Homo sapiens: one gene and its partners. The protein of the gene in region 1 purifies or fractionates together with the protein of each later gene. This does not show direct contact. Each region holds a gene or a part of one and is shown in the gene's direction. Other genes may lie near its edges. The genes, in order: KDSR, SLC35F2 and SLC19A2.

Evidence for each region.
Region 2: the proteins of KDSR (region 1) and SLC35F2 purify together in Homo sapiens (affinity purification with mass spectrometry; 2 studies listed by BioGRID and IntAct, with this or other methods). This does not show direct contact.
Region 3: the proteins of KDSR (region 1) and SLC19A2 purify together in Homo sapiens (affinity purification with mass spectrometry; 2 studies listed by BioGRID and IntAct, with this or other methods). This does not show direct contact.

Annotation. Positions count from the first base shown.
Region 1 is NC_000018.10:63,365,088-63,368,837, reverse strand, and holds the start of KDSR (3-ketodihydrosphingosine reductase), read left to right. Parts: upstream 1-1,631; 5' UTR 1,632-1,719; coding exon 1,720-1,827; intron 1,828-1,837; exon of another isoform or gene 1,838-2,588; intron 2,589-3,708; exon of another isoform or gene 3,709-3,750.
Region 2 is NC_000011.10:107,856,837-107,860,586, reverse strand, and holds the start of SLC35F2 (solute carrier family 35 member F2), read left to right. Parts: upstream 1-1,799; 5' UTR 1,800-1,819; coding exon 1,820-1,929; intron 1,930-2,007; exon of another isoform or gene 2,008-2,086; intron 2,087-3,750.
Region 3 is NC_000001.11:169,472,196-169,475,945, reverse strand, and holds part of SLC19A2 (thiamine transporter 1), read left to right. Parts: intron 1-3,750. UniProt on the Homo sapiens protein: High-affinity transporter for the intake of thiamine. Mediates H(+)-dependent pyridoxine transport.

The DNA of each region.
Region 1 (3,750 bases):
CAATTCCTCAAATAGTTAAACATAGAGTTGCCGTAAGATGTAGCAACTCCCCTACTAGGCATGTACCCAAGAGAAATGAAACATAATGCCCACACAAAAACCGGTAAATGAATATTTACAGTTAGCATAATTCTAATAGTCAAAAAGTGGAAACAACCTAAATATTCCTCAATTGATGAATGGAAAATTAAAATGTCGTATAGTCATACAATGGGATATTATTTGGCAATAAAAATAAATGAAGTATTAACATGTAGTACTTCATATCATGGATGAACCTTGAAAACATTACAGTAAGTGAAAGATAGGATGAAAAAGGCTACATATTATATGATTCCATTTATGTGAAATATCCCGAATAGGCAAGATTATAGAGACAGAAACATGAGGGATTGCTTAGGCTTGGGCGGGGCTTGGGAGGAAATGGGTCGTGACTGCCAATGAGTATAGGATTTTGGGGGGTTGTGACAAAAATGTTCTAAAATTTATGGTAGTGATGGGTCTACAACTGTGACTATATTAAAGACAATTTATTATAAGCTTTATTTATTTATTTATTTTTGAGACGGAGTCTTGATCTGTCACCCAGGCTGGAGTGCAGTGGCGCGATCTCACCGCAATCTCTGCCTCCCGGGTTCAAGCGATTCTCCTGCCTCAGCCTCCAGGGTAGCTGGGATTACAAGCATACGCCACCATGCCCGGGTGATTTTTTGTATTTTTAGTAGAGACGGGGGTTTCACCATCATGGCCAGGCTGGTCTCGAACTCCAGACCTGAAGAGATCCGCCCGCCTCAGCCTCCCAAAGGTCGGGGATTACAGGCGCGAGCTACCTCGCCCGGCCTATTACGCACGTTAAATCGGGAATTGTATGGTATAGTACGTGAATGAGACCTTAATAAAGCTGAGTTGTTTGCGTTATTTATTTGTTTTGAACCTGCTTGGTAAAGATGAACTCTGAACTCAATGAAATTGAATTACCTTAGTGATTCCTCAAAACTCCCTGTTAAGGCTTTCCGGTCCTCTGAAAAGCGAAAGTGGGCCGTGACCATCTTCTAAAAACGCCAAAAAATATGGAATGGAGCCCGGGATTTCAGAGCGTAGTCGCTGGGCTCCCAGGCTGAGCCCGCTCCGGGAGCCTCCAGCCGCCCTTTCCGATGCTCCGGGGCCTCCGAGCAACCCAGCGGGCAGTCCCAAGCCGAGGGCTGAACTCCAGGGAGGAGCGCTCGTCACGCCCACACTGGAGGCCGTGGCAGGCCTGGAAACCCGCCCTGCGGGGTCCTAAGAAGCCATTCGAGCTCCCGAAGAGCGAGTCTTCGCAGCCCTTCCCGGCGCGCTCGCATCTGGCGCTGTCCGGAGCCCGCTCGCGACGCACAGGGACGGGAGGCCCGGTTTCCACGGGAGAGGCTGCGGACTGCGGGCCCCGTCCCGAGGCCGGGGGAGTGGGAGACACCCGGCGACCCCCGAGAGGCGATTCTGGCAGTGGTGGCGGTGGCGGTGGCGGTGGCGGCCTACTCGCCCCCTGGAAGCACCGCCCCGCCTGGGTGGCGCGCGCGCCGGCTCCTCCTCTTCCCCTCCGCCGCGGCCCGCCCCGGCCCGCAAACCCAAACACTCCAGGCGCCCGCCCGCCGCGCGTGATTCTCGCCTCGCCGCAGCCCAGCCCTGCGCGCCTTGCCCGGCGGCCCCCGCCCGGCCGCTCCGGGCCCCTGGCCCCGCGGAGCGATGCTGCTGCTGGCTGCCGCCTTCCTCGTGGCCTTCGTGCTGCTGCTGTACATGGTGTCTCCGCTCATCAGCCCCAAGCCCCTCGCCCTGCCCGGGGCGCATGTGGTGGTGAGTGGCCTCCTGTTGCTGCCCCCCGACTTACCGGCCCGCGCGGCCTTTCCGCCGCCGAGGCCGCGTAGCCTACGTCCCTTTTTCCAGGCCGCGGTCCCCAGGAAGGCATGGCCAAATGGGGAAGGTCACCTGCCGCCGTCCACCCCGGCGCTTTTCCCCCGGCCCCGGCACCCGGCCTCGCGGACCCGCCCTCCGCAGCCTCGGGCTCCTCCTAGGGCCGGAGAGCGTGCGACGGGGGACCCCGCCGGCCGCAGGGTTCCCGGGGCCCCAGGGGTTCTGTGGCTGCTCGTGAATCCATGCAACATCCCTGGGATGTGGATGTTTTGTCCTCAGTTTTTCCGATGAGTCAACTGAGGCACAGAGAGGCTGAGAAACTTTGCCAAGGACACAGCGGTCGGTGGTGTGCAGGGTGCGGCGCGCGGCCCCGGGCGGGGGCAGACAGCGGGGAAGTGGGGTCCCAGCCGCCGGGACCCGCCGAGGCAGCTCGGAACTGGAAGATGGCCTGTGCGAGTGACGGGAAGAGCCGCTGCCAGAGGATTCCAGGAAGTGACTCACCTGGGGAAACTGCTCAGAACCCAGCGGGCTGGCGGTGGTGGCTTAGCGGTATTGGGACGCCTGTCCCGTCTACACTGCTTGTCTCTGAGCTCAGCGTGGCATCTGCTGATTGCTGCTCCAATGCAATCCTTTGCTGTTTTCTAGTGGGAAGGATGAGCTAAACGACAAGGCTTGTGTGCGAGGAATGAAGGAGAGGTGGATAGGTGTGATTTATTTCTTGGCGGAAGCTCGCATATTCAGCGATCCCTGTTCTGCAAATGTGGCACCTTTCTTAAACAGAGAGAATGCCTCCTTGCCTGCGCCCAGCACTTTCCCGTTTGCAGTGGCTTTCTCACGAGCATTCTCGTTTGGATCTCCCAAACCCGAGGCACAGTGAGGCGAGGAGTTAGGAGTAAGGAGGGTTGGTTACAAAATTGGCCGCACACCTCTTCCTGTCCTATCTCTGCACCGGAGATCCGAGCCTCCCCGCTGAGCTGGTATAAAATAAGATGGTCGTTTTTCTTAGTATGCTTTAAATCTGTACAAGGGTTTGTGAATGAGAAAATGTATCTGTTTAATTTCTCCTTTGTAAAGCTATTAGCTTTTTCCAACACCTCCTGTTCCTAATGGGGAAAGAGTGTGGATTCATTACAAAAAATAAATAAGAGAAAGGCAAAACTTGACACTCTAAATTCTGAAAGTTTTACATCCGCAAGAGAACTGCTGCCTCAAAAGCGTGGCTTTAAACCTTGGATCCTTTCAGAGCTTGAGTTTATAGAGCATAACTTTGCAAAAACTAAAGCTAAACGCAGAATGAAAATTGGAATTCCTTATTTGTAAGACAGTTTCACTGAGCCTTGACTCCAGTCCTTCCAGCCCCATCCCGCGGCAGGTCATAGGTGAGATAATAAATGCTGTGTCTGTTCAGGTGGACCAAGAAGAATTTATTTTTACCATCCCGCTTTAATACGCAGGATTATTATTTCACACTCTAAGTAATGTGAGAATGACATGAATAGTTCACATGGTGTCACCATCTGTCTTCTTTTTTAATGTCATAAGAAGAGTGAAAAGTGTAATTGTTCTTGAGATTTGTTAGGAGTTGACTGTGGTATTGTTGGGAGAGGGAGCTGATGGTTAAACTGTCTGCCCATACATAATTAAGAACAAACTTATAACAATTGTTTCATTTTTAAAACAATTTTATATACTAGTGTTTTCTATCTAGTTACGGTAGTAAAATTGCAGGAAAAAAGCAGAAAATCACCCACCTCAGCCTCCGAAAGTGCTGGGATTACAGGCGCGAGCCATCGCGCCCGGCCAACAACAGCTATATTTTTACAGTAATCTGCTGATAACTGGCTGATTACCGACCAAATAAATCTC
Region 2 (3,750 bases), on another chromosome or scaffold:
ATTTTGGCTCACTGCAACCTCTGCCTCCCGGGTTCAAGTGGTTCTCCTGCCTTAGCCTCCCAAGTAGCTGGGATTACAGGCACACACCAAAACGCCGGGCTAATTTTTGTAGTTTTAGTAGAGACGGGATTTCGCCATGTTGGTCAGGCTGGTCTCGAACTCCTGACCTCAGGAGTAATCCGCCCGCTTCGGTCTCCCAAAGCACTGGGATTACAGGCGTCAGCCACCGCGCCCGGCCTAGGAAGGTTTCTTAATTGTCATTACTTTCCAGGAGCACAGGGCTCAGGTAGAATTCAACGTTGTCAATATGCAGGGTTAAATGAGTTGTTTACTTTACAAAAGTGACATCTTAAATGTGCTTCTAATGTCCTCTTGTTTCATAATATGCTTGTATTATAATACTTAATTAGTCTCTACGGATGACCACGTTCTTAGTTTCAAAGGTTTTTTTGAGGTTCCTGCAGCTGCTAAACTTGGGGTTCCTGAAGTAATATTTCATTTTCGAAAGCTGTTTTTTTTCTTAGACTCCTCTTACAGAATTGCCAGCTCGTCTGCACAGCCTGTCTATTTGAACCTACGTTTATTTTGACCCACCCCAACCCCCAAAGCAGGTGGCCAGGAAAAAATAAAAGGTCCCAACACCTTTTCTTTTGTTTTCTGGATCTCCTCCTTTCCGGAAGCAGGGGGTCAGTGACAGGAACTTTTCGACCCCAGCTTAGTGTCTCTTAATCCCTCTTTAGCCCGTGGAAGCCTCGGAAGGCGTGGCCAGGGCAGGGCATCCAAGCCGAGCGCCGGGGGTTGGCACCGTCTCTCTCCCTGGCACGGCGGAGACAACTGAATACTGAAAGACAAAACCAACACACCGCGAGGAATGAGCCACGCCTCCATCCACGCCACAAAGGCACGTTTCCAAGATCTTTTTAGGATCTTACCCATGTTTTGCAGGGAAAAGCGACACAGACCTGAAGCGCCTTCAGGTTTTTTTTTTTTTTTTTTTTTTTTTTAAGACGACGTCTCCCTCTGTTGCCCAGGCTGGAGTGCAAAGGCGCGATCTTGGCTCACAACCGCCGCCTCCTGGGTTCAAGCGATTCTCCTGCCTCAGCCTCTCGAGTAGCTGGGACTACAGGCACCCGTCACCACGCCCGGCTAATTTTTGTATTTTTAGTAGAGACGGGGTTTCACCATATTTCCCAGTCTGGTCTCGAACTCCTGACCTCAGGTGATCCACCCGTCTCGGCCTCCCAAAGCGTTGGGATTACAGGTGTGAGCCAACGCGCCCTGCCAGCCTTCAGTTATTTTAATGAAGCGATTTTGTACAAATCAGCCAGAGGGAGGGAGAGTGGGAGGGAAGAGGAGGGGTCAGCCAGTCCTTCCAGTTAGGAGAGTCCCGGCTCACTCACTGCTTCTAACTCACTGCTCACTCACCGCTTCTTAGCTTAGGAATCACCTACAATAACCTCGTGTCACTGTATCTTGTGATTTCAAACAAGGAACCCTAAAAACCTGAAGGCACACTGGGTGCCGCTCAACAATAAGGCTCGGCTGCCAAGACGAAAAAAAAATTGCCCTTTCTCCTCCTGCCACCCTGGAGGTGCCAGGTTGTAATCTGCAAATGTATTGTCTGGCCCTTAGGGCTTGACAGTTAATGATTGGTCGCTGAAGGAGCCGAGCGGAGGAGCGAGAGGGACGCGAGCAAGCGAGCGAGGGAGGGAGCGCAGGGCCAGAGCGGAGCCCCAGCCGGCCGCACAGGCACCGCCTCCCGTCTTCCGGGACCCGGCACTTCGGGGGTTTTGGGCGCCGGAGACGCGCAAGGGCGCCGATGGAGGCAGACTCGCCAGCGGGCCCCGGCGCCCCAGAGCCCCTCGCGGAGGGAGCGGCGGCCGAGTTCTCCAGCCTGCTGCGCAGGATAAAAGGCAAACTCTTCACCTGGTGAGTGGAAGGGGCGTGCTGCAGCTCCGCTGGGGCGTGGGGGCGGCTGCGGGCCCTGCGCGCACGTGGACAAGGAGCACACTCTCTGAGGCCCCCAGCAGGGAGGCAGAGGTGGCGGCCGCACGGACTTCGGTTCGGGGCTCAACACGCACACCAGGTATGGTGCGCTTCACCTGGCGTCGGGAAGCACTTGGTGCGTCTCCCTCGGCTCCCGTTTCGAAATCGTGGCGATGTATTTTGGAGGATTTGGGGGGAAACCCACCCTGTGGCACTATTAGGTCGGTCCTCTGGGGCGTTCCGCGGTGGAGGGACGAGGTCCCCGGGGATGCTGTGAAGGAGGAGTGCCCACCTCGGGCTGGGCAGGTGGGTGAGCGCCACTTCCTGGCGCCGGCGCCCTCATTCCATCTGCTGCCGAGCCAGCCAGACTGGGCGCGGTGATTCAAGAGTTGACCGAAGTGAGAAATCCTGGTTAAGTTTTGTGCTGCTGCCGGGTGGGAGACCAGAGCCGGCTCTCTCTTCCTGGGCCTGAGCGAGGTGATATAGCCACCCCCAGGGCTGGGGTCCAGGGAAGCCTGTTTGTGGTATCACTATGCTCTGTGCGAAGTAGGGACAAATGTTTTTAAGGAGTGGGCAGCGACTCTAGAAAGCGTTTCTGTGGTTGCTGGAGGACTTGCACTCTGGAAATGAGAGAACCCAGGACCTAAATAGTGAAAGACATTTATTGGGCACTCGCTCTGTGTCAGGTACTGTGCATAACAATTTATATGGATAATATCAGCTAATCCTCACCACTTTAGGAGATGGTACTATTGTTATATCCACTTTGCCGCTGGAGAAACAAAGAAGGCTAAGCAATTTGCCCAAGGCCACAAGATGATCTTTAAGGGGTGATGCGTTCAAGCCGTAGTCTAAACAGCGTTGGCCACTGACAACTCATGAAACAGATATTTGATTTTTTTTTCATATTAACAAAGCGAATTTCCCTTTAACGATTGTGAAAGATAGTCCTGAAAAGCCATACCATTTTAAAAACGAGATCGATAAAGGTGTAAGCATTTTTTATCATATAAATAGTTTGAAATTGATGCATGTGTTTAAAGGGGAAAGTTGGCCGAAAACCACCTTGTAGCATCCAGTTGTGTATGTCCTGATACATTTGTTAAAAGTTCTCAGCTGGGAGGCAATTCAGTGTAATGGCTAAGGGCACTCACATTCTGGACTCAAATCCTGGCTGGGTGACCTTGGACAAGTCAGTTCTCTGTGCTCCAGTTCCCTCCCTTCCCTCCCTCTCTCCCTCTCTCCTTCCTTCCTTCCCTCTCTCTCCTTCCTTCCTTCCTTCCCTCTCTCCTTCCTTCGTTCCCTCTCTCCTTCCTTCCGTCCTTCCTTCCACAAGTCAGTTATCTGTACTCCAGTTCCCTCCCTCCCTCCCTCCCTCCTTCTTTGTTCCTTCCTTCCGTCCGTGTCCGTCCGTCTTGGACAAGTCACTTAACTTCTCTGTGCTCCAGTCTCCCTCCCTCCCTTCCTTCCTCCCTTCCTTCCTCCCTTCCTTCTGCTGGGTGACCTTGGACAAATCAGTTCTCTGTGCTCCAGTTCCCTCCCTCCGCCCCTCCCTTCCTTCCTGCCTTCCTTCCTTCCTGGACAAGTCACTTCTCTGTGCTTCAGTCTCCCTCCCTCCCTTCCTTCTTGGACAAGTCACTTAACTTCTCTGTGCTCCAGTCTCCTTCCCTCTTTTCCCTCCCTCCCTCCCTCCCTTCCTTCCTTCCCTCCCTCCCTTCCTTCCTTCCTGCCTTCCTTCCTTCCTTCCTGGACAAGTCACTTCTC
Region 3 (3,750 bases), on another chromosome or scaffold:
TAAAGTCTTTCATTCTCTACTGAGAGTTAACTGAATTGTTTAAATGTGGCATCTAATGTCCTCATTGAAAATTACTCTCTTTTCTCTATCCCCGTTCTTCAGCTCTCAAATTACTACTTGAAATTTAGGTTATCATCCCAGAGAGCCTGGGTAGACTTGTAGAGCCTGGGCAACCCTCATCATGAAACTCACCTTGATTACCAGGGCACCTGTGAGCACTTTTTGTCAGAATGACCAAGGATTAAGTGGCAATGAAATGCTGATTTTTTTCATAGTTTGTTAGGTGATATTAGAGAGTCAACAGAGGGTTGATGGGGGAGGGAAGGAGGTGTGTAATCATTTCATAGATTTTATGAAGTGGAAAAAAAATAAAGACACTTCTTTATCTGTTTTGAATGTGTTACAGTGGCTTTAGCTAAAATTAACGTATATACAGATAATATGTGTATAAATATATATTTTAGATATTAACATATTGACCATAGTTCTAAAGATTTTTATAGACAGTTTCAAACTTTTTTGAATATAAGTAAGAAACATAGAAAACATTTTACATAGAAAACCTGTACATACATAGGTATGTATATATTTTATATATAACAGAAACAAGTTTTACAACAGTGTTTTATTCTGATACATTCTTTTATTTTTTTTAAATTCAGTTCACTGTCCTCTAAATCAATTTTATTGCCAACTTATGGGTGATGACCTATAGTTTTAAAAACTGTTCTAGATCAACTTGAAATACTTGTTTATAGATACACAGTGTGTCAGTATTTTATATACTGAAGAATTGTAGAATTTTAGAGTTAGAAATGACTCTAATCACAAGTCATAGAAAAAGCAGAGCATTTTAAAAAGAGATTAGATTTCATCAAGACTGTCCTTTTAGAGATAAGGATTAGGATCAGAGATTAGCAACTTATGCAGAATTGTACAAATATACTCTTGAACATAATTTAAAAGTGTGTATGAGATCCAGTTCTTTCTAAACCTTTCTCGGTGAAGTCTTTTAACTGGGGTAACAATGTCAGAACCATCATGTCAGTTACACTGTTTTCAGAATTAGGATTCAAGTCAGTTCCCTGATATCCTAGGCTCTGCTACTGATACCATAGCAGATGGGCAGTGCTGCTTGGTATTGGCACTGACTGGCCCTAAAATGCTGCTGTTTTTCTTTGGCAAGCATGAAGAAAATTCAGAATATGGATATTAGGGATCACAGAGCTATTTTAAGTTGACAAGACCTATAATTAAACCATAAATTATAATTGTGGTAATTATTGAAGAGTAGGTAGGTAGGTGGTTTTATCTTGATTTTTATAGAAAGAGAAAATGAAGTAAGAGGAGTCTAAGTGATAGCTCATTCTACAAGTTACCTTAGAGTATTTGTGAGTTATTTTTAAAGAGAGTCTATTGCATTGGGGCAAAGGGTGCTGATCTTGCAGAAAGAAGAACCAAAGCTGGTGACTTTCTTTTACAAGCAGAGCTGGATTCATTATGTAGTTGGCTGATTGGTGAAACTGATTTATTTTGAGTTCTTCATCTATTAGAAATGACATAAATTAAACCACTTCTTTAGCACAGGTTCTGACATGTAATTAATACCTAGTAAATGATTCTCTTAATATAGCCATGCTTTTATTTGTAGTTTGATATCTTTTACTACTAGTAAGTGTTCTTTCTGTGTCTGCATGTCTAAGGTCTCTAAACAATGACAACAGTGAAATTAATGCTTCCACTTTGGTATTAAATAATGTCATTTCTAGCAGCAGGGTGTAGTGAGTTACCACCTACCTCCCTCACCAAAACCCATAAAAATAAAAAACTACAATAAACCCTGAGAACCAAAATGAACGAAAATCTATTCGCTTCATTCATTGTGAGTTTTTAAGAAAGTGAAGTCCAAACCCTAGTTCTAATACTTGGGCAAGTTACTTAATTCTGTGAGATTTAGTTTCCTTATGTACATATCTACCTTATACAGTTATTTTGAGTATTTAAAGCTTTCAAATGAGTTTACATAGTAGGTTTCCAATAAATGGTAATTGCTATTATTACTATTATCATTATCATTACACGTGAATAATCCGGAACAGCTCTGTACTTTTATGGTAGATAGTCATGTATTTGTGAGGTTGTAAATAGAGCAATCTTTCCTTTTCTCTTTGAATTAATCACCCCTGGTCATCTTCATCATCATCATCATCACACCTCCTGTTTATTTTGACCTGGGTATCAGATACTGTGCTAAGAACTTTAGAGTCAGTATGTTATTTGATTCTTATTAAAACTCAATAATGTAGATATTTGCTCATTTTACAGAAGAGGAAACTAAATTTAGTTAACTGACTTGCGCAAAGGCACATAGGAAGTGGCACTTTAAAACTTTCCAACTCAGGCTGGGCATGGTGACTCACACCTGTAATCCCAGCACTTTGGGTGGGCAAGGCAGGCAGATCACTTGAGGTCAGGAGTTCGAGACGAGCCTTGCCAACATAGTGAAACACGATGTCTGCTAAAAAAAAAAAAAAAATACAAAAACTAGCTGGGCGTGGTGGTGCATGCCTGTAATCCCAGCTACTTGGGAGGCTGAGGCAGGAGAGTTGCTTTAACCCGGGAGGCAGAGGTTGCAGTGGGCTGAGATAGTGCCACTGTACTCTAGCCTGGGCAACAGAGACTCTGTCTCAAAAAAATAAATAAATAAATAAAATTTCCACCCATATCTAGTTGACTCAAAAACCACCACTACAGTAGAAACTTCCATTCCCTGATAGAGGGAAGTAATTGTTAAAGATTTTTAAATTTATAAAACAGCGTCAAAATCTTATGTTCAAATGAAATCTGAAACTAGATGCCCGTTATGATAAGTAAATAAAAATTGAGCCTTTCTGATTGAAACAGGAATGCAGGTCTGATAATTTTACATACTTGAGCCTGTTATTCATCCCACATGAAACTCTTAAAGCTCCATGGAACACAGTGAAGGCCACTTATTAAATTAGAGCATGCATGATTAACTATGAGCAGCTCAGAGTTTTGATGTAATAGAAATAAACCTTTGTTTGTAGATGTAATTTAACAAGAAACATAAAAGGTAATATGTCAAATGCTACTTTATAAAGTGTGATTCATATAAGCTTAACATTTGAAGCCTAGAAAACAGCATAGAAGGAAGCCTGCAGATTATAGCACGAGGTGCTGATTTTATAAACAGGACCTGCCATCTTTTCTTTTTGGCATGGCCAGATAATAGATTGAGTAGTTATTAACCTCTGTGTGTGGAATTCATTATTATGTAATAGATCTAAAGTTCTCAAATGCATTATACTGGGCATTATTTTATGTATGCCATGACTTTTTAAGCTATGCAATAAAAATAACACTAATTGAGCCCCTCTATAATAAATATATACATTATCTAGTGTAACTCTGTATAATCTTTTGTGGATAGGTTTTATTGTTATCATTTTCATTTTCTAGATGAGAAAAGTAAGGCTTTCTTATCAGTTTATGGTAGGATTTCTAATAGAAACTTGTGAATCCTTTTAATAGTTCCATTCTTCCAGGAATATACTTTCTTTTCTTATAATCCTTCCAGCATCCTTGAAAGTTTTAGATATCCCAGTTGTTTTCCAAGTTATATTGGTTAAGCAACTGAAGCTAAATAGTAAAATTCTGATGTAGTTCAATAAAACTGGTGGACCTTGAATAAAGACTTATGAAAATGTGCTTGGTACCATTCACTCA